Linked DNA regions of Homo sapiens. The protein of the gene in region 1 purifies or fractionates together with the protein of each later gene. This does not show direct contact. Each region holds a gene or a part of one and is shown in the gene's direction. Other genes may lie near its edges. The genes, in order: CSNK1G3, CERT1, NHSL3, WASF1 and ACACB.

Evidence for each region.
Region 2: the proteins of CSNK1G3 (region 1) and CERT1 purify together in Homo sapiens (affinity purification with mass spectrometry; one large-scale study listed by BioGRID and IntAct). This does not show direct contact.
Region 3: the proteins of CSNK1G3 (region 1) and NHSL3 purify together in Homo sapiens (affinity purification with mass spectrometry; one large-scale study listed by BioGRID and IntAct). This does not show direct contact.
Region 4: the proteins of CSNK1G3 (region 1) and WASF1 purify together in Homo sapiens (affinity purification with mass spectrometry, with the first as the bait; one large-scale study listed by BioGRID). This does not show direct contact.
Region 5: the proteins of CSNK1G3 (region 1) and ACACB purify together in Homo sapiens (affinity purification with mass spectrometry; one large-scale study listed by BioGRID and IntAct). This does not show direct contact.

Annotation. Positions count from the first base shown.
Region 1 is NC_000005.10:123,515,177-123,519,463, forward strand, and holds part of CSNK1G3 (casein kinase I isoform gamma-3), read left to right. Parts: intron 1-4,287. UniProt on the Homo sapiens protein: Serine/threonine-protein kinase. Casein kinases are operationally defined by their preferential utilization of acidic proteins such as caseins as substrates. It can phosphorylate a large number of proteins. Participates in Wnt signaling.
Region 2 is NC_000005.10:75,379,787-75,383,250, reverse strand, and holds part of CERT1 (ceramide transfer protein), read left to right. Parts: intron 1-1,173; coding exon 1,174-1,302; intron 1,303-2,049; coding exon 2,050-2,179; intron 2,180-3,464. UniProt on the Homo sapiens protein: Shelters ceramides and diacylglycerol lipids inside its START domain and mediates the intracellular trafficking of ceramides and diacylglycerol lipids in a non-vesicular manner.
Region 3 is NC_000001.11:32,765,659-32,769,945, forward strand, and holds part of NHSL3 (NHS-like protein 3), read left to right. Parts: exon of another isoform or gene 1-111; coding exon of another isoform or gene 112-169; intron 170-2,128; coding exon 2,129-2,299; intron 2,300-2,403; coding exon 2,404-2,459; intron 2,460-2,993; coding exon 2,994-3,117; intron 3,118-4,014; coding exon 4,015-4,128; intron 4,129-4,221; coding exon 4,222-4,287. UniProt on the Homo sapiens protein: Able to directly activate the TNF-NFkappaB signaling pathway.
Region 4 is NC_000006.12:110,172,874-110,177,160, reverse strand, and holds part of WASF1 (actin-binding protein WASF1), read left to right. Parts: intron 1-4,287.
Region 5 is NC_000012.12:109,234,666-109,238,952, forward strand, and holds part of ACACB (acetyl-CoA carboxylase 2), read left to right. Parts: intron 1-647; coding exon 648-704; intron 705-940; coding exon 941-982; intron 983-2,499; coding exon 2,500-2,715; intron 2,716-4,287. UniProt on the Homo sapiens protein: Mitochondrial enzyme that catalyzes the carboxylation of acetyl-CoA to malonyl-CoA and plays a central role in fatty acid metabolism.

The DNA of each region.
Region 1 (4,287 bases):
TCTCCAGTTACTTCTCTGTGTCTCCTCTGATCCATCCTGTAATCCTCTCCATGCTGGGAGTAGACTTATTCTGGTATAGTTTATTGTTTCAGATGTTTTTCAGAATGGAACAAGCGGTTGTTTTGTTCCAAAGGGCTTCCCAAAAGGATGTGTCAAATTAAATAGAAGGAATGCTGAAGTATTGAATAACAAAATATAGGTCATTGAATAGTTATATTATTGTTAATAGTGAGATTTGCTGTGGATGAGATGAAATGTAAAGAATGTATATTTTCACAGAAAGTGGTTTTAATGAAGTAATTATAAAAGAATCTGTACGTGAGGAAAATTGATAGTAACAGAGGGATGATAAGATGAGAAATTTTCACAGTTCGGGATTAACGTGTGTGAGGTTTTTAAGTCATCTTAAATATTAGACGACCCTAAAATAATGTAACCCCACACTTAATCATTATCAAAGGAGTGCTTAGAAAAAAAAATCAGTTTATAAATGCAAGTAAAATCATGTTACAGGGAAAATTGTTTGAAGTTTTTTTTTCTTCTCCTAATTATTCCCCTCTTAGCTTCCCTAATTATTCCCCTCTTAGTATTCAAAAAGGACTTATAACTGAATTTGTGTTCCCTTCAACCTCCCAGTAACAACAATACCTCCTATAATTTATTAAGTGCCTACTTTGTATAGAGGCCATAAATGATACTATTACGACAACTCTGAGTTAGGTGGTGTAACCTCATTTTTGAGAGCAGGAAACAGTCTTCTAGAGTTTAAATAATGTGTTGAAGATATATCTTGGAAGTAGCAGAGTGCATATTTGAGTCAGTTTTTTTTTCTGACTTCAAAGTCTTAAGCCACCAATGATCTGTTTTTTCTTATCTTCCATCTTCATCCTTTTTTTGGTCTTTTCTCAAGCGGTTGGCAATTCGTGGTATTAATTGATAGTATGTGTCTGAGTGTTGGTTCTTTATGATGTAATTTCTTCAGAAGCGGTAGTTTTGAGGTATCTGTCTTTAATTGTGGGATCCTGTAGGTGCAGACAGTATGGTTCTGGTAATTTAAGGCACCTCAGAGCATCACCTTTTGCTGATCTGCAGGACAGAACTATGCTTGGATTCTTAATGTGTAGAAATCAAATGTGCTTTAATAATGTGAAATGATTTTCAAGGGCATCTGAACTGCTCAGGAAATATGGAATGGGAGATAAATGTAGAAATATATAACTTCTAGCGACATGGTGGAGGCTGCTGTTAGACATTTTTTCTTTTTTTTAAGCTCTCTCTGAAAGCTGAGATTTAGCAACTATAAATGTTTGGGCTTCCCTTCTATTATGAAACCTAAGGAAAGTATGTGTTTATTTGTTGTTAGACCATAGTGATTGGTTATACTCTCTCCTGCCACTTCGTGCTTATCATCTTAGTTATAAGAAATAACTCTTAACAATGAATTGAAGTGTTTATGTATTGGGGAGATAAGACACACTTTTTTGGTCGCTTTGTTTACCAATGATATATTACATAGTTGTAATTTATTGAAAATTTATGAGTAAGTTATGTCCACATGGCTAAATCATGTCCGCATTTTTCATAACTTTTCAATGGAATGAGAGATGGTCTCATGATACTCTTTTTCTTAAATACAAAGTTTAATGTTTTTTTTCTCTAGGTTAGTAATGTGAGGTTGAAGTTGTATTCAAATTTATTACATTTATTTAGATCACTTTGTGTTACCTGGAAGTACTTTCTTCAGTTGATAGCTACATTTGGAAAAAAAGGGAAGAGAGTTACCCTGTTATTCTGCCATTATATTCTTCATCAAAATGGAGGAAATTCATATGAAGTGCCAAGGACTATGTGATGCCTGCCACATAGTAGGCACTGTGTAAATCTTCTGTCCTTCATTTCAGAAGTTGCCGATAAGAATTTTAGAGGGTGGATTGGTGGGTAGACAAGCAAAGACTCTCGGGAACACCCTATTACAGGAAAATCTCTCATACCTGACCTCTGCTTAACCCACTCGTGAGATTAAATGATAGTCTTCATTCTCTCTGTAGAATTTGCTGACTGATGCTCATGCTACATTGAATGACAGTAGACTATTCTTTAGTTTTATCTTGAACTTTTATTCCCCCCAGTTACTGTAGACTTACCAAGAAACATTTGTGTTTGTACCCAACACACTGTTATGGCACTTGATGTTGTAATCACATAGTTTAATGAATTATTATTCAGTGAACTCTGAAGATAAAAAGGCGTTTGTATGAGAACCAATTGGCTACTTTGAAATCAAGTGAGTAGCCAAAATCAATTATGGTTGAAATAGATGAGGGTTAAATAATTTTAAATGATTAGGGAAAAAAAAACAAAAAACACCTAACGATCTAAAAAAATCTGCAATAATATTATTTTTCACGTTTGTAAAATGTCTTTCTGTGTTTAAGAAACAGAAACTGGAAATCACAGGTGTTGTTTTATGGGGGTAGTTTTTGCAAGAAAAAGGAAATAGAACTTTCTTCGATAGACCCACACTGGAAGAAAAGGCCATAGCTCTGTATTATAAGATTGTCTTGTGAATGGACATTTTTGTTTTAGTTGTAATAAAATGTATAGAGTTTGTAGATGTTGAGAAATGATTTCCTTTTTAGGCTAACTTCAGAACCATTTATTAATTGTAATATATTAAAGAAGTCTGCTTCTAAAACATCATCTTTCCTAGTTTACACTACTGCTTAGAGATTTATTTAATAACATCCTCTTTAAGAAAAAAAAAAAAAAAAAGGAAGATCCTGTTATTCCCAGAGGTTCATTCCTTAGAGTGAATTGTTTATCTAGTCAGGTGATCAATCTATGGTTCTCACATATTTCCCAGTATGGTCCCTAATCTGATTTCATAAGCTACCTTTCAACTTTTATGTACTGTCAGGGTTGAAGGGGTAAGCCTTCTTATAGTTCCAACATCTCCATCCAATTAGGAATGCTGGGGTAGAGGAGATTGTTCTTTGAAGGAGGAAATGTGACACCCTTGATATATACCAGGAGCACTTGAGCCTCCTATCTCACCTAGCTCAGTCCAAATGGAAAGGAGAACTTTCAGTTGAAGGAGCAGGAAGTCCAGGTTGGAGAAGGAGTGGTATATGTGGTATGCTATTTATTTTGGTGTAACCACATTGCTTGCTGAATTACAGTAGATGCTGAAATGGCACATTGAAGTATGAAGGTAGGGTGGGTGGCTCCAAGCTAGTACTTGAGAGCTCTGGTCTGCCCCTCTGTGATTTTCTTGGCTGTTTGTCTTCTGTGTGTTGGAGTCATCCTAAGGCCAGCAGCAAGATCACATCTAGACATGCACTGGCCAGAGGATGGAATGGATCTCTCTCTCTCTTTCTGTCTGTGTCTCTGGAAAAGCAAATACATCTTTTGCATAAGCCTACCAACATATTTTTCTCTTCGTATCTTATTGACCAGAATTAGGTCACATGAACGTCCTAACTAGTTATCATAAGGGAAGTAAGGTTATCATGGTTGGTTTCTACTAATCAGGAGATACCTTCTGCAATTGGTGTTGGGATCACATTTTTCTGAGTTAGATGGAAGAGGGAGGATATTTTAAAAAAATTGTGGGAAGGAAGAATTTGGGGGATATGGATGTTAGAGAGATGATAAATAGTGATCGCTGTGTCTACCTGTTTTGAAGCGATTCTCGTGCTTCAGCGTCCCAAGTAGCTGGGATTACAGGTGCATGCCACTGCACCCAGCTAATTTTTGTATTTTTAGTATACATGGGCTTTCTCCATGCTGGCCAGGCTGGTCTCGAACTCCTGGCCTCAAGTGATCTGCCTGCCTTGGCCTCCCAAAGTGCTGGGATTATAGGCTTGAGTCACCGTGGCTGGCAAGTTACTTTTTGAGACGGAGTTTTACTCTTGTTTCCCAGGCTGGAGTGCCATGGCATGATCTCGGTTCATTGCAACCCCTGCCTCTTGGGTTCAAGTGATTCTCCTGCCTCAGCATCCTGAGTAGCTGGGATTACAGGCAGTCGCCACCTTTCCTGGCTAATTGTTGTATGTTTAGTAGAGACGGGGTTTTGCCATGTTGGCCAGGCTGGTCTTGAACTCCTGACCTCAGGTGATCTGCCTGCCTCGGTCTCCCAAAGTGCTGGATTACAGGCATGAGCCACTGTGCCCGGCTGGGTCTGAATATTTTAGGAGCTAAAAACACTACTTTATTTTTTCATTGGCTAACTTTGAATCAATAAAATAGGTGGTGAAGTTGAAAGATTATAATTTTTTTCTATGAAAC
Region 2 (3,464 bases), about 48 Mb from region 1:
AATAAACAAATTGTCCTGGAATCATTTTTTCAAGAAAATCACATTACATTCGCAGTGTATGTAACTATACCACTCACACTATATCTGAAATTTATCATCACCCCAAACAGAAACTCCGTACTCATTAAGCAACAACTCCCCATTCCCTCTCCTCCCATTCCATAATAATGTTCTGCTTAGACTCAAAGTCTATAGTGTTATTTACACTACAATATTTTTCCCTTTAAATTTGACATCTTTTGCAGTATGGTCTTAAAAGAGGGCTACTGGTCTCTTGATATTTAAGTCATTCTCATTCTTTAAATTTCTATCTTATCATCCTGTGGATTTGTATTCATTAGGTCTAAATTTGCCAAATCTTCATGTATTACTTACTGTCTCCACACAATTTACCCAACACTATATTTATCAACTACATGAAATTTTGTATCTTTAAAAAATGAATCATTTCATCTTGCAAATGATTTGTATTGTATGCTATTTATTACTCTCAGTAATCAGGAATGACGCTGCATAACAAGGACTAGTCCAGATACATATACGAGATAACCAAAATAAAAGTAACTTAAATAGGATAAAAGGTTTTTTTTCTCATTTAAAGTAGGTAGTCCCATTTATTGAAGACCTAGGCTCCATGTCATTCCCATAGTATATGTTTCCCCTTGCATACCTTAATATTGAAATATTTAATCTAAGTGACTTAGAATTCTTTCTAATGTGATTTGATTCAAATAAGTCTTTTTTCATTAAATCTTTGAATCTAAGTAGAACATAATCATGGAGTATGAGGAGAGAGGAATGGAAAGTTGTTGCTTACTGGGTACAGAGTTTCTGTTTGGGATGATGATAAATTTCAGAGATAGCAATATGGTTACATAACACTGTGAATGTAATTAATGTCCCTGAATTGTACCCTAAAAGTTAGTTAAAATGACAAATTATACGTGTATATATTTTACTGCAATTAAAAAAATAGAACATTATTCCTTTTATTATATTGTTCTGCAAAGCTATTAACTCTGTTCATAATTAATCATTTGGTAGATATCCTCAGATGCTTTCCATTTAAAATTTGAGAGATTTTACCTTCAATTAAGACATTTATTGGCATTACGTTTCTCTTGTTAGTTCCATGTTAGATCTGTTTTTCAAAAGATTTTTACTTCTCCACAGAGGGTGTGGCCTGCTTCTCAGCGAGACGTATTATATCTTTCTGTCATTCGAAAGATACCAGCCTTGACTGAAAATGACCCTGAAACTTGGATAGTTTGTAATTTTTCTGTGGATCATGACAGTGCTCCTGTAAGTACATGTATATAAATGTGTATAATTAAACAATATAAAGCTAAATACACAATGCGGGACAAAAATGATAAACACAGCCCATACACTATACTTGATTTGATAATGGTTCTTAGATTTTATGTTGGATTGACTGCTAGGAACAGTATAGCCCATGTGTTGTCTGAGGGCAACAGTCATGCCTATGAACATTCCACCAGGGCCGTTTACCTTTCCTTCTAATGTTTCGTGAAACAGCCAAAAGGGCAGTACATACACTGGGCAGTAGGCTACTTCCCACAGTTATCTCTTAAGCCGTTATCAACTGCCAGCCAAACCTCTGTGGTTTACCACAATTTAGCTCCATTTACTACTTAAGAGGAAGGGATCCTGGGCAACATGGTTAGACCCCATCTCTATTAAAAAAAATTTTTTTTTTTTTTTTAATTAGCCAGGCCTGGTGATGTGCACCTGTGGTCCCAGCTACTCTGGAGGTTGAGGCGGGAGGATTGCTTTGAGCCCAGGAGTTTGAAGCTGCAGTGAACTATGATGGCACCACTGCACTCCAGAGTGGGCAACAGAGCAAGACCTTGTCCCCAGAAAAAGTGGGTGGGGAGGAATCCTGGTGTCATATCAGCTTGGTGCTTATAAGATTTCACTGGAGATACTTTTAAGAGTTACGATTTTGGTTAACCTAATATAATATTAGACCAGCAGAGTTTACAAAATACTGGGTATCTACTGATGCTTTGTTTTTTGTTTTGGCAGCTAAACAACCGATGTGTCCGTGCCAAAATAAATGTTGCTATGATTTGTCAAACCTTGGTAAGCCCACCAGAGGGAAACCAGGAAATTAGCAGGGACAACATTCTATGCAAGATTACATATGTAGCTAATGGTATGTATTTTATTGTTTTTGCTCTTTGATAATGTGGCTGTTCTTGATCATGACCTATATGACAACAATTTGGACAAATGCCTTTTTAGTTCTTATCCATTAGATTACTAATTTTTAATTTGGAGAAAGGTATATCAGAATTACTAGAGAATCTTTGAAAGTACAGATGTCTGAATTTCACCCTGGAACTACTACTATATGAGTATTTCTGAAGCTAGAGCTGGATAGGAAAATTTTAAAACTTTATCCCTAGGTCACTGTATATACCCTTCTTTTTTTTTTTTTTTTTTTTTTGAGATGGAGTCTCGTTCTGTTGCCCAGGCTGGAGTGCAGTGGTGCAGTCTCAGCTCACTGCAGCCTCCGCCTCCTGGGTTCAAGCGATTCTCTGCCTCTGTAGCTGGGATTACAGGTGCCCACAACCACGCCTGGCTAGTTTTTTGTATTTTTAGTAGAGACGGGGTTTCACCATCTTGGCCAGGCTGGTCTTGAACTCCTGACCTCGTGATCCACCCACCTCGGCCTCCCAAAGTGCTGGGATTACAGGCGTGAGCCACTGCGCTCGACCTAGCCTTCATATTAAGCACCATTTTCTTAGATATTTGCCTCATAGAACAGATTTATTATTAGGAATATAAGCAACAGTGGGGAAGGAAATTAAGAGTTCTTTTACTCATTGTCAGCCTTTTTAGCTTTCTGAATCAATGTTCCCCTAGTCCTTATTAGTTGCTAGTTACATATTTATTTCTCTTTGACATTCATTGTCAGGCTTTTTGTTTTCTGAGTCAGCGTTTCCCTAGTCCTTATTAGTTGCTAGTTACATATATTTGTTTCACTTTGGATAGGTCTTTTCATTGCTTGCTTTGGGTCCTTACTTCACCTGCTTTGCACCTGGAGTAATCATTGCAACCTCTCTCATCAAAAGTCATACCTTCTTTATACAGGGCCATAACTGCTAGTATGTTCAAAGAAACAGTTGTACCTGAGTAAGTTACTATTTCATTATAGTACAGATTTGTGAATAATCTGCCCTAAATAACCTTAAGTGGTGCTATACTAATTTTTGCAGGTAATTTCGGGAACTAAGAACATTGTAGAAAGGTTATAGATGCTTTCTTATTTGCTGTCTGATTATGTCTGATGGATAGTGTTAAGGAATGAAGGGTTGGGACTTAAAAGATCATAATTGGTCCAGCTGGGTACAGTGACTCAGCCTGTAATCCCAGCACCTTGGGAGGCTGAGGCGGGCGGATCATGAGGTCAAGAGTTCGAGACCATCCTAGCCAAC
Region 3 (4,287 bases), on another chromosome or scaffold:
GGCGGGAGGGCTCGCATCCCCATAGTGCTGGGTTACAGTGAAGGTACGCCCCGCGCTCTGCTCTGGAGAGGCAGGGTGGGATAGGGAACGTCTCGAGTGGCGCCCGCAGTCATGGTGGTGTTCGTTGGCCGCCGCCTCCCGGCGCTCCTAGGGCTGTTTAAGAAGAAGGGTGAGTGGGTGTGGCTTGGGGGGAGGGGAGGGATGCTCGATGCCTCCCTTTCCCAGACCCTTATGTAGAATGAGGAATCAAGGCTGGGCAAAAGTAATGGGGTGGGGCTGGGGGCTGATAATGAGGCCAGAATCTCCCATCCGGCTGTGCTTTTGTCCAGCCGCTTTGTTGCTGCCTTTGTCTGGGCCCTGCTTGTGGGTTGGGAGGATGGATCCAGGTGTCTCTGACCTTGAAGCCTGCAGCCCTCCCGTGAGACTTGCCTCCCTGCCGGGGTACCCACACTTTACTGGGTACAGCCTCCCAGTCAAGATGTACTAGCCTTTCCTAGTGTGCCGGGGAGGATGGGACGTGGGCGGCCCAGAAGAGAGGAGAGTAGTACCACTGGAAGTTGGGAAGCCTGCTCAGTGAAATCCTGTTTAGAGGCCTGGGAATGGAGAAGTTTTGGAGGGAGGGGCCTGTTCCTCCTTCCTTCTCCTAGGAATTGGGCTTTCAGACCTGGATTAAGACATAGGGACAAGAGTTTATTGGACTTTTGAGGGTTGGGGGCCCCTACTCTGAGTGTGATCCGGGAGTCCCCTCTGGGAACCTGGAGTTGAGTCCAGGGTCAGTCTGACTCCTACTGCTGGGTGACCTTAGGCAAGGCCTTGCCCCTTTGAACCGTTTCCCCACTTGTAAAATCTGGGGATCTCGGGCACTGGTCTGGTTGGATCTGTTGGGGGCCTCCTAGCTCTGACCTGTGGGATTCCTGCAGACTCCCTAGGGCAGGAGCTCTGGCTGTTGACGAATGGGCTGAGGGAGGAGGAAAGGCAGGTTTCTGAACTGAAGACCCTGCTCCTGGAGCATGGCCCTTTAAAGGGCTTGTTTTGTTCCCGTCCCTTTATAAGGTGTTACCAAGGTCACATGACCCTTCCAGCGCTTTTGCTTATGTTGTGGGTTTCATTTAAAGGGGGGGCTGGGGCTGCAAAGTGCTGACACAGCCCCCCATCCCCAGGATTAGATGGCCAGCCCCTCCACAGGCGGGGCTTGTAACAGGATCCTTTGTAATGGATCCCTGGCTCCTCTGCAACAGGGGCCAGGGCCAGGGCCAGGGCCTCCAGGAGAGGGGGATACCTGGGACTATTTCCCCAAGAGAGACTGGAGCTCCCTTGGGCGGGTGGAGGGGCCTGGGTCTTTCTTCTCCCCTCCCCTGCCCATCCTTCCACTAAGGGGCAGCCACATGGGTGAGTAGGGGACCCAGGAGGCTATCTCCTTGGTCTGCATCCCCCCTAGGATTTTCTGGGAATATGGTTGTAACTCATGCCAGCTGTCTCTCCTTCCTGATTTCCCGTGATATCTTCTTCCTGGACCTGGTTCAAGTGGTGGCATGAAAAGAGTGGTTTGTTTTCCTGTGAAGTGGGGTTTTGGGTATGGAGGCGAGAGCAATGTATTTACTATGGGCTATGTGTATACTCGGGATGTTTTTTGTGGGGCTCTGAGTGACGTGTGAGTACATAGTCGTGTGTATACTTGGTTACTGTTTGTGTATATACAGAGCAGGGACTGTGGGTGTTGTGTGTTTACGTGCGGGCTGGGTGTGCTTGGTGTGTGTACCTATGTGTGTTTATACTCGGATGCCCTTTGTTTATATACATGAATGACATCTGTGAGTGCTGTGTACGTACACAGTAGACCTGTGTACCTGTGTGCCCTGTGTGTGGGGCCTTATATGGGGCCCTTTGTGTGGTGTGGGTACTCAGATTTATGTACACTTGGGTGTAGTTTGTGTATATGGGGGCTGTGTGTGTTGAGTGTTTACTCCAGAACTGTGGGTTATGTGTCCAGACTGGGGAAGGGGGCATTGCTTGTATATGCAATGGCCGTGTGCAGTCTGGGGACCATGACTGCCCTTGCCGTGAGACCTGTGCCCCTGCAGGGCCCAGATGCCTTTACCTCATTTCCCTTCCTCCTCCCTCCTACTAGGCTCTGCCAAGGCTGAGAATGACAAACATCTAAGTGTAGGGCCTGGCCAGGGGCCAGGGTCTGCAGTGGATGAGCACCAGGACAACGTCTTCTTTCCCAGTGGGCGACCCCCCCACCTGGAAGAGCTGCACACTCAGGCCCAGGAGGGGCTCCGCTCCCTACAACACCAAGGTAAGCTTCCTCTCCACTCCCCTCCCCTCTCCTCCCTCCAGTGCTGCACTGTCAGCTGTCAAGGTCAGGGGCCTAACCCAACAGACCCTTCTGGTGTCTTCCAGAGAAACAGAAACTGAACAAGGGTGGCTGGGACCATGGAGACACCCAGAGTATCCAGGTGAGCCCTGCCTCCAGCTCAGTCCTGACTCTTCTCTACCTGCTTGACCCCTGGCAAGGATGTCTTGGAACATTTCTGGGTCTCAGTTTCTTTATCACAAAGGGCTACACTAAATGAACCCTGAGGGCTAGTTCAGGGTTGCTCAGTGCTAGGTGATGCTGGAGGGGATCTGTGACTCAAAAGTTCGAGTGGGAGGCTGGGCGAGGTGGCTTACACCTGTAACCCCAGCACTTTGGGACGCTGAGGTGGGCGGATCACTTGAGGTCAGGATTTTGAGACCAGCCTGGCCAAAGTGGTGAAACCCTGTCTCTACTAGAAATACAAAAATTAGCCAGGCATGGTGGGAGGGTACCTATAATCCCAGCTGCTTGAGAGGCTGAGGCAGGATAATCGCTTGAACTTGGGAGGCGGAGGTTGTGGTGAGCCAAGATTTCGCTACTGCACTCCAGCCTGAGCTGGATTTGTCTCAAAAAAAAGTTCCAATGGGGAGCCTTGAGGAGACAGCCCCACCCAGATCTCCTTCTACCCTGATAGTCCTCCCGGACGGGGCCGGATGAAGACAACATCTCCTTCTGCAGTCAGACCACATCCTACGTGGCTGAGAGCTCCACAGCAGAGGACGCGCTCTCCATCCGCTCGGAGATGATCCAGCGCAAAGGTGGATTCATGGGCAGGGGAGAGGGACAGTGGGCTCCATTGGGTCCCAGCATCTGTAGCTTCTTTTCCTCCTTATCCAGTGTTTCACCAGGCTCTCTGATTCAATGAATTCGGGAAACACAGTACCCTGTGTCCTCTTGCACATTCGTGATACACACTAACTATAAAGCAGTTAAGAGTTAGAAAATCTTGGCGGCCGGGTGCGGTGGCTCACGCCTGTAATCCCAGCACTTTGGGAGGTCGAGGTGGGCGGGTCACGAGGTCAGGAGATCGAGACCATCCTGGCTAACACGGTGAATGAAACCCCGTCTCTACTAAAAATACAAAAAATTAGCCTTGCCTGATGGCGGGTGCCTGTAGTCCCAGCTACTTGGGAGGCTGAGGCAGGAGAATGGCGTGAACCCAGGAGGTGGAGCTTGCAGTGAGCCGAGATTGCACCACTGCACTCCAGCCTGGTCGACAGTGTGAGACTCCATCTCAAAAAAAAAATAAAAAAAGAGTTAGAAAATCTTAACTGTTGGAAGCCTGGTGTAACTAACTAGTGCCAGCTGTGTGACCTTGGGAAAACCCTTAACCTCTCTGAACTTCTGTTTGATGTTCTATAAAAATGAGGATAAGTACCCTATTGGAATGAATGCCAAATGTTTAGAATGACGACTAACACGTAATAATATGTTTACTAAATAGTAAGCTATCACTAAAGGGAAATTACCATCATTGACTTAGTAGCCTTAGTCTTACAGAAAGAAGCCTCTAGCTTTGTTTAACCTAGCCTTGCCCATACCTACTTGACTGTGGAAACCATTTCTCGCAGAGCTCTTATTACAAAAGTAGTGCCCTGCAGAATGTGCCTGGAGTCCTTTGCTCTAACAGTTTTTCTCCCACGACTGGCCCCCAGGCTCCACCTTCCGACCCCATGACTCATTTCCCAAATCTGGAAAGTCAGGGCGGCGTCGGCGGGAGCGGCGGAGCACTGTGCTGGGACTCCCGCAGCATGTGCAGAAGGAGCTTGGTGAGGCCTGGGTTAGGAGGGCAGTGGTGGGGTGGGTGGGGAGCCTTGGTCATCCCCTCTCTGCTGACCCCACCTCCTCCCTGTCCCTTCCAGGCCTGAGGAATGAGCGTGAGGCACCAGGCACGCCCCGGGCTCCTGGTGCACGGGATGCCGTACGCA
Region 4 (4,287 bases), on another chromosome or scaffold:
TGATCATTTATAAGGTATGCTATAGAGTTACTTTATTACTCATGTTTGTAAATATTCATATATTCAGAGACAGTTTTAATATTGTATAAGACTATATTTAATTATACATTTTGCTTTATTTTAGGAATAACTTAAGATATCTTTTCCAAGTGTTGGATTTTCATTATCACAGTACATAGTACCTTGTGATTTCCTTATTGGACTACTATCAAAAGATTATGTTATTAGCACTTTTACCAAAACAGTGCTTTTGGTTACTTTGTGAGAAAACTTCATATAGATAAGACTATTAAAGTGTGTTTAAAGTTACTATTGTATGGTTTCGTTTTTGAGAATTTGTTTTATAATGTTTTCTTAAATGAATTAAAATTTAGCTGACACCGTCACTTGGGTAAATGCAGTAAAGTCGTGGTTTTTCTTAGTTCTTTGAGGAGAGAAACTGACCTGCAGCTTATTGTCATAAATCCAAAGTTGTTAGTATAGTGTTTAACAAATAGCAGGGGCTCAATTTTCTTTGTTGAACAAATAAAATGAATGGGTAAAGAATATCCATTGAATTAATATATTTAGTGAAACATTTTTAAAGATTTATCAAACATTATAATTAATGAAATGTATAACTTTATCTCAGGAGAAAAGAGAAAAATGAATTTCAAGGTTCTTTGAACTCCATTTACCTGCTCAGATATAATTCCATTACCTGTACACTTTTGAACTGGCACTAGATACTTAATAATGTATATGTTAGTAGTCTTTGATTTATGAAATATTAACAATTTTCTTCTTATAGCTCACTTTATGAAGATGTATGTTAACATATTTTTTGTTTTTCCTACACTAGATAGAAGTGTGTTTGATTCTTTGTGACTTACGTTTTCTAGTGAAATAGTAATAAAAAAGATATATGTAAATTAAATCCTATGCTGAATGCTTGAGTACCTAGTTGTTAAAAATAAATGACCCCTGAAGTGGAACTTTTTATAAAATTAAGAATCTTGTGTTTTAAGTTTATCACATTCAGCTTATAATTTTGAGTCTTTGTGAATTGGTAGTTCTAACTTACTACACAATTGATTACATTTTACAACTTGTAAAATGGTTTGGAACTTGAGTCTTATTTTCTCAGAAACAGTATACTTAGTGGTTAGAGTCACAGACAGCCCACTAAAGCCTATTTAAATAATAAAATACCTGAATTATAGGATTATGTTAATACTAAAGAAATTATAAAATTATGTTAATAATTAGCATAAGTATATTAAAATACCTATAATAATTTGTATGACAGTCTTTCTATGGGAAAAATAAGTTTCAGATGTACCCTGAAATGCTAGGATCTGTAACTCTTGTGTTAGACATGACAACATTATTAGGAACTTGTTCTCTTTCACCCAGTGGACTTGAAGAGGAGGCTGTTTCTCAGTTCAGTGAGTGGCATAGGCTTACATTATCTGGGACAAGAAGTTAGGGCATGACAAAAATTAGAAGGAAATGCAGTCTTCTGCGTGACTTTACTTCTCAAGATGTTTGATTATAAAATGAAAAGGTAGAAGTAGATGACTTCGGAGATCTGTTTTAGCTACAAATAAAATTCTAAGATACTTCGAAGCTTGGTGTAACCCCCTTTTTTTCCTGAGAGTTCATTTTCCCTAAAGTTACCGCTTACGTCCCTCTTATGAGGACATTTCTTCTTTCTGGACCTACCTCTGAAAAAGAAAGTAGTCTTGATCCTTTCACACGTGCCTGTTCTCAGAAGCAAGATTTTTTAGTCTCTTAAAGGCGTTATTTTTGTGATGGGTTTTTTGTTTGTTTTAATTTTTAAAAATAAACTCCCAGCACTGTCAAGAAACAGGATTTTTCTTTTGGATTGTTTCCTTTGTTTCCTTATTTTGAGCTATTGGTAAAGTCAGGGTAGATTTTATTCATACTTTGAAGAAAGATCATATCCAGTCAGTCTCCATAGAATTTTTTTAAGGAAAAAATTTTGGAATGAGGTCATGAAGTGGGAGTATGAAGATATAAAGATGGATTATTGCCCCATAAAATACGGGGCATCTTGTATTTGTAGCAGCCTTACCTGGGGTGCTATGGAGCTTTGGTATGGATGTGATGGAGCTGAAGGCAGATTGAGAAAGTGAATCTGTGAACTCCTTGAGGACAGTTTTGTTGTAAGCGTTTGGTTGTTTTGTTTTGCTTTGCTTCATTTTTGTGTTCCCAGTGCCTGTTTTTGGTTTAAGCTAAATGGATTTTGAGTGTATGCAATTACTACAGAATAAAAGAGAAGTCATTCTGTTCCATGTGGAAAGATCAGGGTGCTGTGAGGGAAGAGGTCATGAAACAGCTATTTTTGTCATATGCATTGGAGTATTTAATAATTATTTGGAGATCAGTGATATTCAAAAATAATGTGTAACATGGTCCAAAAGGAAAAGAAGTGACATTGCTTGCTTGCTAGATGTACAAGATTCTGTATAGATGCTGTCACATTTATTATTTATCTTGTTTAATTGCTATCATAGCCCTATAAGGATTTAATTGAAGAAAAAGGTTAACTGAATTGAACAAGTTGTTTGTTCTGCCTAGCGGAAGCCCAGATTGTTTCAGAACTGCTTTATCTCCCCTTTTACTGATAAGTTTCTGTTGGAGCAGTCATTTTAATAACTTGATAATAACAATTCTGCCTGCCTGCTACTGTCCCCTCATTTGTAATTGGTTCATTTAGTGGGTCCCCCTTGTTAAACCAGTGATTCATAGTTCATAATCAGCACATAATTATTGAGGGCCAAGTAGGTGCTAAAAAGGACAGGTCTCTATTCTCTTGGAGTTAACAGTATAGTAAAAAACAGGTGTTGAACAAATACATTTGTACTTAGAAATTTTGGTGAATGCTGTAAAGGAAAAGAAGAGGGAACTGGATTTACACTGGGAGTCAGGGGAGGCTTCTTAGAGGCAAGATTAGTGGAAGTTAGCTAGGTGGAAAAGGAAGAGAATTCAAAGAACAGGTGAAACAGTTAAAGCTTAGTGTAAGAGGGATTGTGACTTGATATGAGGTTGCAGAGGTAAACAGAAGCCAGACTATGCAGAGGGCCTACGTGAGGTTTGGTTTAACGAGGTTAAGGATTTTAAGTCTATTGGGGAAGGCCATGAAGAGTTTTAATCGGGTTAATTACTGGATCAGATCTGTCTTTTGTAAAGATCACTTTGGCTTGGAAGGGGCCAGAGATACCAATCACAATTCTGTTCATTTCTGTGGTTTATTGGCCTGGTTTTAGACACTTTTTTACTAAGCCAAGTCACTCAGAACTTTTCCTGGGTCCTCCATGCCCAGAGGTTGAATAATTTGTTTTCTCTTCAGTTGCTGAAGCTGTGAGATACAAAACTCTGGAACTGTTAATGGCCTTGTTTCTTGCCCTGTGGGCTAGATAAGCCAGGGCTTCTAGAACAAAGAGTGCAAAGAAGCAGATGCACAGAGTCCTGACTGTATTTGAGTTCCTTTGTCCATGGTCCTGAGATTGGGTTCCAGAGACATCCTAGTTACCTTTGTCATAAGTCCTCCTTTTTGCGTAAACTGTTAGAATTGTATTTGTGGTACTTGTCAACCAGCAAACTGAGTCCTCTCATAGATCAAGTAATTTGCTCAAGGTCACATGGCTAATAGAAATGGAGGTGGAATTTGAGCACAGATATGTGTGATTTCAAAGTCCCATTTTTTTCCTACTCCCTTATGCTGCAAAGGTACCATTTCTTAAACTAAAGGTCCTAAAGAAATTCTAAGTAGGTGGGTTTTGGGTGTGATGACATCTGTTGGATGATGATGACAGCAAAGTTTTTTTGTTTTTTTGTTTTTTTAATTTGGTGTGCTTGATAGTAGTTAGTCCAGCATGTAGCCATTCTTTATTCCTAACCTAGCCAGGTCTACTCCAATAAAGTTACATTGACTAACTTATTTGAAAAGAAGAAAAGCTTATGTGTCAGGGCATGGAATAACTTGTTTGATTCCTTTACCAAAAAAGTCAAGTGTGTTATGTTTTCACCTTATGCTACAAAAGTAAGTTTGTTTTCTAGTTGTTTTAATAGGGACATCTTGCTAAATTTGTTAAATTTGCTAAATTTTTATAACATGCATGTGCTACAGGTTATGCCAGAGAATTGTGAAAGGGTTAAACGAAAAGGGAGGAACAGTGAAGCATTTTATATTTTAGTCGAGGATGAAGACTAGCACTCACTTCTTAAAATTATTTTTATAGATTTAGAGGGTACACGTACAGTTTAGTTACATGGATATAT
Region 5 (4,287 bases), on another chromosome or scaffold:
TGGAAGCCATCATCCTCAGCAAACTAACACAAGAACAGAAAACCAAACACCGCATGTGCTCACTCATAAGTGGGAGCTGAACATTGAGAACACATGGGCAGAGGGAGGGTAACAACGCACACCGGGGCCTGTCGGGGGGTGGGGGCCGAGGGGAGGGAACTTAGAGGACAGGTCGGTAGGTGCAGCAAACCACCATGGCACATATATACCTGTGTAACAAGCCTGCACGTTCTGCACATGTATCCTGTTTTTTTTTTTAGAAGAAATAAGAAAAAAAGTGTACAATTTAATATATTTTTAGTATATTCACCAGGTTGTACAACCATCACCAGAATCAATTTTAGGACATTCTCATCACTCCATAGAAAAACCCTGTACCTGTTAGCAGTCACTCCCCTCTGTCCCCAACCCAAAAACCCTCTCCCCACCACAGCCCTAGGCAACCACTAATCTACTTTCTCTCTATATAGATTTGCCTATTCTGGACGTTTCATATAAATGGAATCAGATCACAGGAGGTCTCTTATGATTGACATCTTCCACTTAGCATAATGTTTACAGGTTCATCCGTGTGGTAACATGCAGCAATACTTCAGTTCCTTTTACGGCCAAATAATATTCCATTGTGTCTTTGGTTTTTAATGCAGAAAAATATCCTTGTGGATTATGGACTCCGACGAATCACATTCTTGATTGCCCAAGAGGTTAGTTCACAGTTCATCTCTATGAGTCTTTCCCATTCTCCAAGCCTTGGTGTGTGCCATTTATTTGATATTTATTTTGTAGATTTGGGTGAAAGAGATCATTAGAAAGGAGAAGGATTTCCAAATGATTCATTCTAGAAGTGAATGTAATCGTTTACAATCACTAAATAAGGATGTACATATTTCAGTGCGTCTTGCTTGATTTAATTGTCTTGTGTGTGGATTTCTTTTTGCAGAAAGAATTTCCCAAGTTTTTCACATTCAGAGCAAGAGATGAGGTATGGCCAAAAGTAATGATGTTTTCTCTTCTCTAGCATCTTGTTTTATTTTTTAAGAGATGGGATGGGGCCGGGTGTGGTGGCTCAAGCCCGTAATCCTAGCACTTTGGGAGGCTGAGGCAGGAGGTTTGCTTGAGCTCAGGAGTTCTAGACCAGCCTGGGTTATATAGTGAGACCCTGTCTCTACAAAAAAATTAAAAAATCAGCCTGGCATTGTGATGCAAGCCTGTGGTCCCAGCTACTTGGGAGGCTGAGGTGGGAGGATTGCTTGAACCTGGGAAATAGAGGTTTCAGTGAGCCAAGGTGATTCCACTGCACTCTAGCCTGGGTGACAGAGTGAGACTCTGTCTCAAAAAAAAGGAAAAAAAAGAGATGGGGTCTCACTATGTTGCCCAGGCTGGACTCGAACTTATGGCTCAAGCGATTCTCTTGCTTCAGCCTCCCGAATAGCTGGGACTATAGGCACATGCCACCGTGCCTCCCAGCTCCCTGGCATCTTTGATATTCATGAAGAATATAGTCTGCAGTCCTTAAGGCATCCCCATATTCAAGAATGTAGCAACTTTTGTGTAGACTGCAGTCTTCCTCTGGGATTGTATTTCCATTGAGAGCCCTCTGTTCCCTGCATGGCACTCAGACCTGAGAATCTTGCCCTTTCAGCCTCACTACAGGTTTCTGTCTTGCTTGAATAATTTTCAGTACTTGCTGATGTACTCAGTAAGACATTTTTTCCAAACTGTTTTTCTTATGCTCGTCTAGAACAGTGGTTGGCAAACTCACTTGCAGACCAGCTGCCTGTTTTTACGAATAAAGTTTTATTGGAACACAGCCACACCCGTTGGATTCCACATTGTCTACTCTGGCTTTCACTCTAACAGTAGCAGAATTGAGTAGTTGTGACAGAGCCCGTATGATCCATCAGCCTAAAACATTTACTCTCTGGCCATTTAAGAAAACGTTTACCGATCCCTGTTGTAGAACAGGTAGGTTTATTCCCAGCACTGATTCAAGACCCCACCAAATTCAGCATTTTGCATTTTAATTTATCCAAAGCTTTATTTTTCTAGCTAAGACACATCCTTTTCTTAATGTCTTCATTTTTTTTTTCAGTTTAGTTTCCAGTACTGTCAGTTGCTTTCTTTTCGGGGACCAATTTCCACCAAGAAACCAGGGGTTAGTGGCTTCATGAGAATTGCCACAGGCTGTGACAGATGGAGAACAGCCTGGTCACGCTGGCAGGTGATAGGGACTAGCTAGGTTCCCCCAGGAGCCAGCGCTGCACCCAGCACAACAGGCTTGCAATGCCCATAGCTCTCCTCAGATCTTAGCAAAACCCCAAATATCTGGAGCCCTGGGGGTAGCTTACAATTAGGGAACATCATGAATGCTGCATTCCTGAGTGCCAAACCCATGGACACCAGGGGTCTGCAGAGTAGGGTGTGGACCAAGCAGGGACGCAGCTCCAACGTCACGCTGTGTGTGTATGTGTCTGTCTTCTCTCTCTGGTCCGCCTACAGTTTGCAGAAGATCGCATTTACCGTCACTTGGAACCTGCCCTGGCCTTCCAGCTGGAACTTAACCGGATGCGTAACTTCGATCTGACCGCCGTGCCCTGTGCCAACCACAAGATGCACCTTTACCTGGGTGCTGCCAAGGTGAAGGAAGGTGTGGAAGTGACGGACCATAGGTTCTTCATCCGCGCCATCATCAGGCACTCTGACCTGATCACAAAGGTAAGATGTCGCAGAGCATTTCTTCCTCTCTCAGAACCTGGCCCTCCCTTCCTTACATTCCTGCTCTGTGCTGGGTCCTGGGCTGCATGCTGGGGATGGAGAGTACACCAACACCCAGGGTCCTGCCCTTGCTATGCTCCAGTCCAGGGCAGGAGGCGGACAGCAAAGTGGCCTGTGATCACGTCCAGGCTGGTGGCACTTGGATCTGTTTCTTGTATTATGTGGGTCTCTGCGCATGAGAAGAAAATTTCCAGGATAGAAAAATACTGGTTTGTTCAGGGAATTTCTTAATATTTGCTGACTGAGTGATCGTTTTCCATTGTTTCTTGCATTTAGAAAAGTAATCCATGGCCGGGTGCAGTGACCCATGCCTGTAATCCCAGTACTTTGGGAGGCTGAGGTGGGCGGATCACTTGAGGTCAGGGGTTCAAAACCAGCCTGGCCAACATGGTGAAACCCTGTGTCTACTAAAAATACAAAAATTACCTGGGCGTGGTGGCGTACACCTGTAATTCCAGCTACTCAGGAGGCCGAGGCATGAGAATCGCTTGAACCTGAGAGGCGGAGGTTGCAGTGAGCTGAGATGGAGCCCTTGTACTTCAGCCTGGGGGATAGAGTGAGACCCTATCACAAAAAAAAAAAAAAAAGAAAAAAAGAAACAGAAGTAATCCATGATTATATTGTGAAAATTTTAAATAAGACTGAAAACGATTTTTAAGAACCTAGCGCAAGGACCGAGAATCCTGTCACTGAGGGGCCAGCTTAGTTGTTGACTGTTTCTAGACACAATTCCGTCCCTGAAACCTAGAGTTGTAGGCATAAGTTGCAGATAAGAGCTGAGAGTGGACAGATCATTTGAATATATTATTCTTTAATTGGTCAGTCACTTGTGGACCTCTTTCATTGTTAATAAAGAGTGGTCCACCACATATTATTTCCTTGCATGGATGTACCGTGTATAATTTTTTTTTTTTTTTTACTAATCCCCTATTGATGGAAACATATATATATTATTATATATATAATTATATATAATAATATATATAATATATTATATAATATAACATATAATATACATAATATAATATATAATATGTTATATAACATTATATATACATAATATAATACATATTATATGTATTTATATAAATATATATTTATATAAATGTATATATAATTATTATATATATATATTTTTTTGGAGATGGAGTTTTGCTCTTGTTGCCCAGGCTGGAGTGCAATGGCACAATCTCAGTTCACTGCAACCTCCGCACCCCCGGGTTCAAACAATTCTCCTGCCTCAGCCTTCTGAGTAGCTAGGACTACAGGCACACCCCACCATGCCCAGCTAATTTTGTATTTTTAGTAGAGATGGGGTTTCTCCATGTTGGTCAGGCTGGTCTGAAACTGCCGACCTCAGGTGATCTGCCCACTTCGGCCTCCCAAAGTGCTGGGATTACAGGCGTGAGCCACCACGCCTGGCCCTATTGATGGATATTAAGCTAACTGCAGTTTTTTTGCTACCTGTCAGCTAGATGTTTTATTTTTATTTTGATACAGAGATTTGCTCTT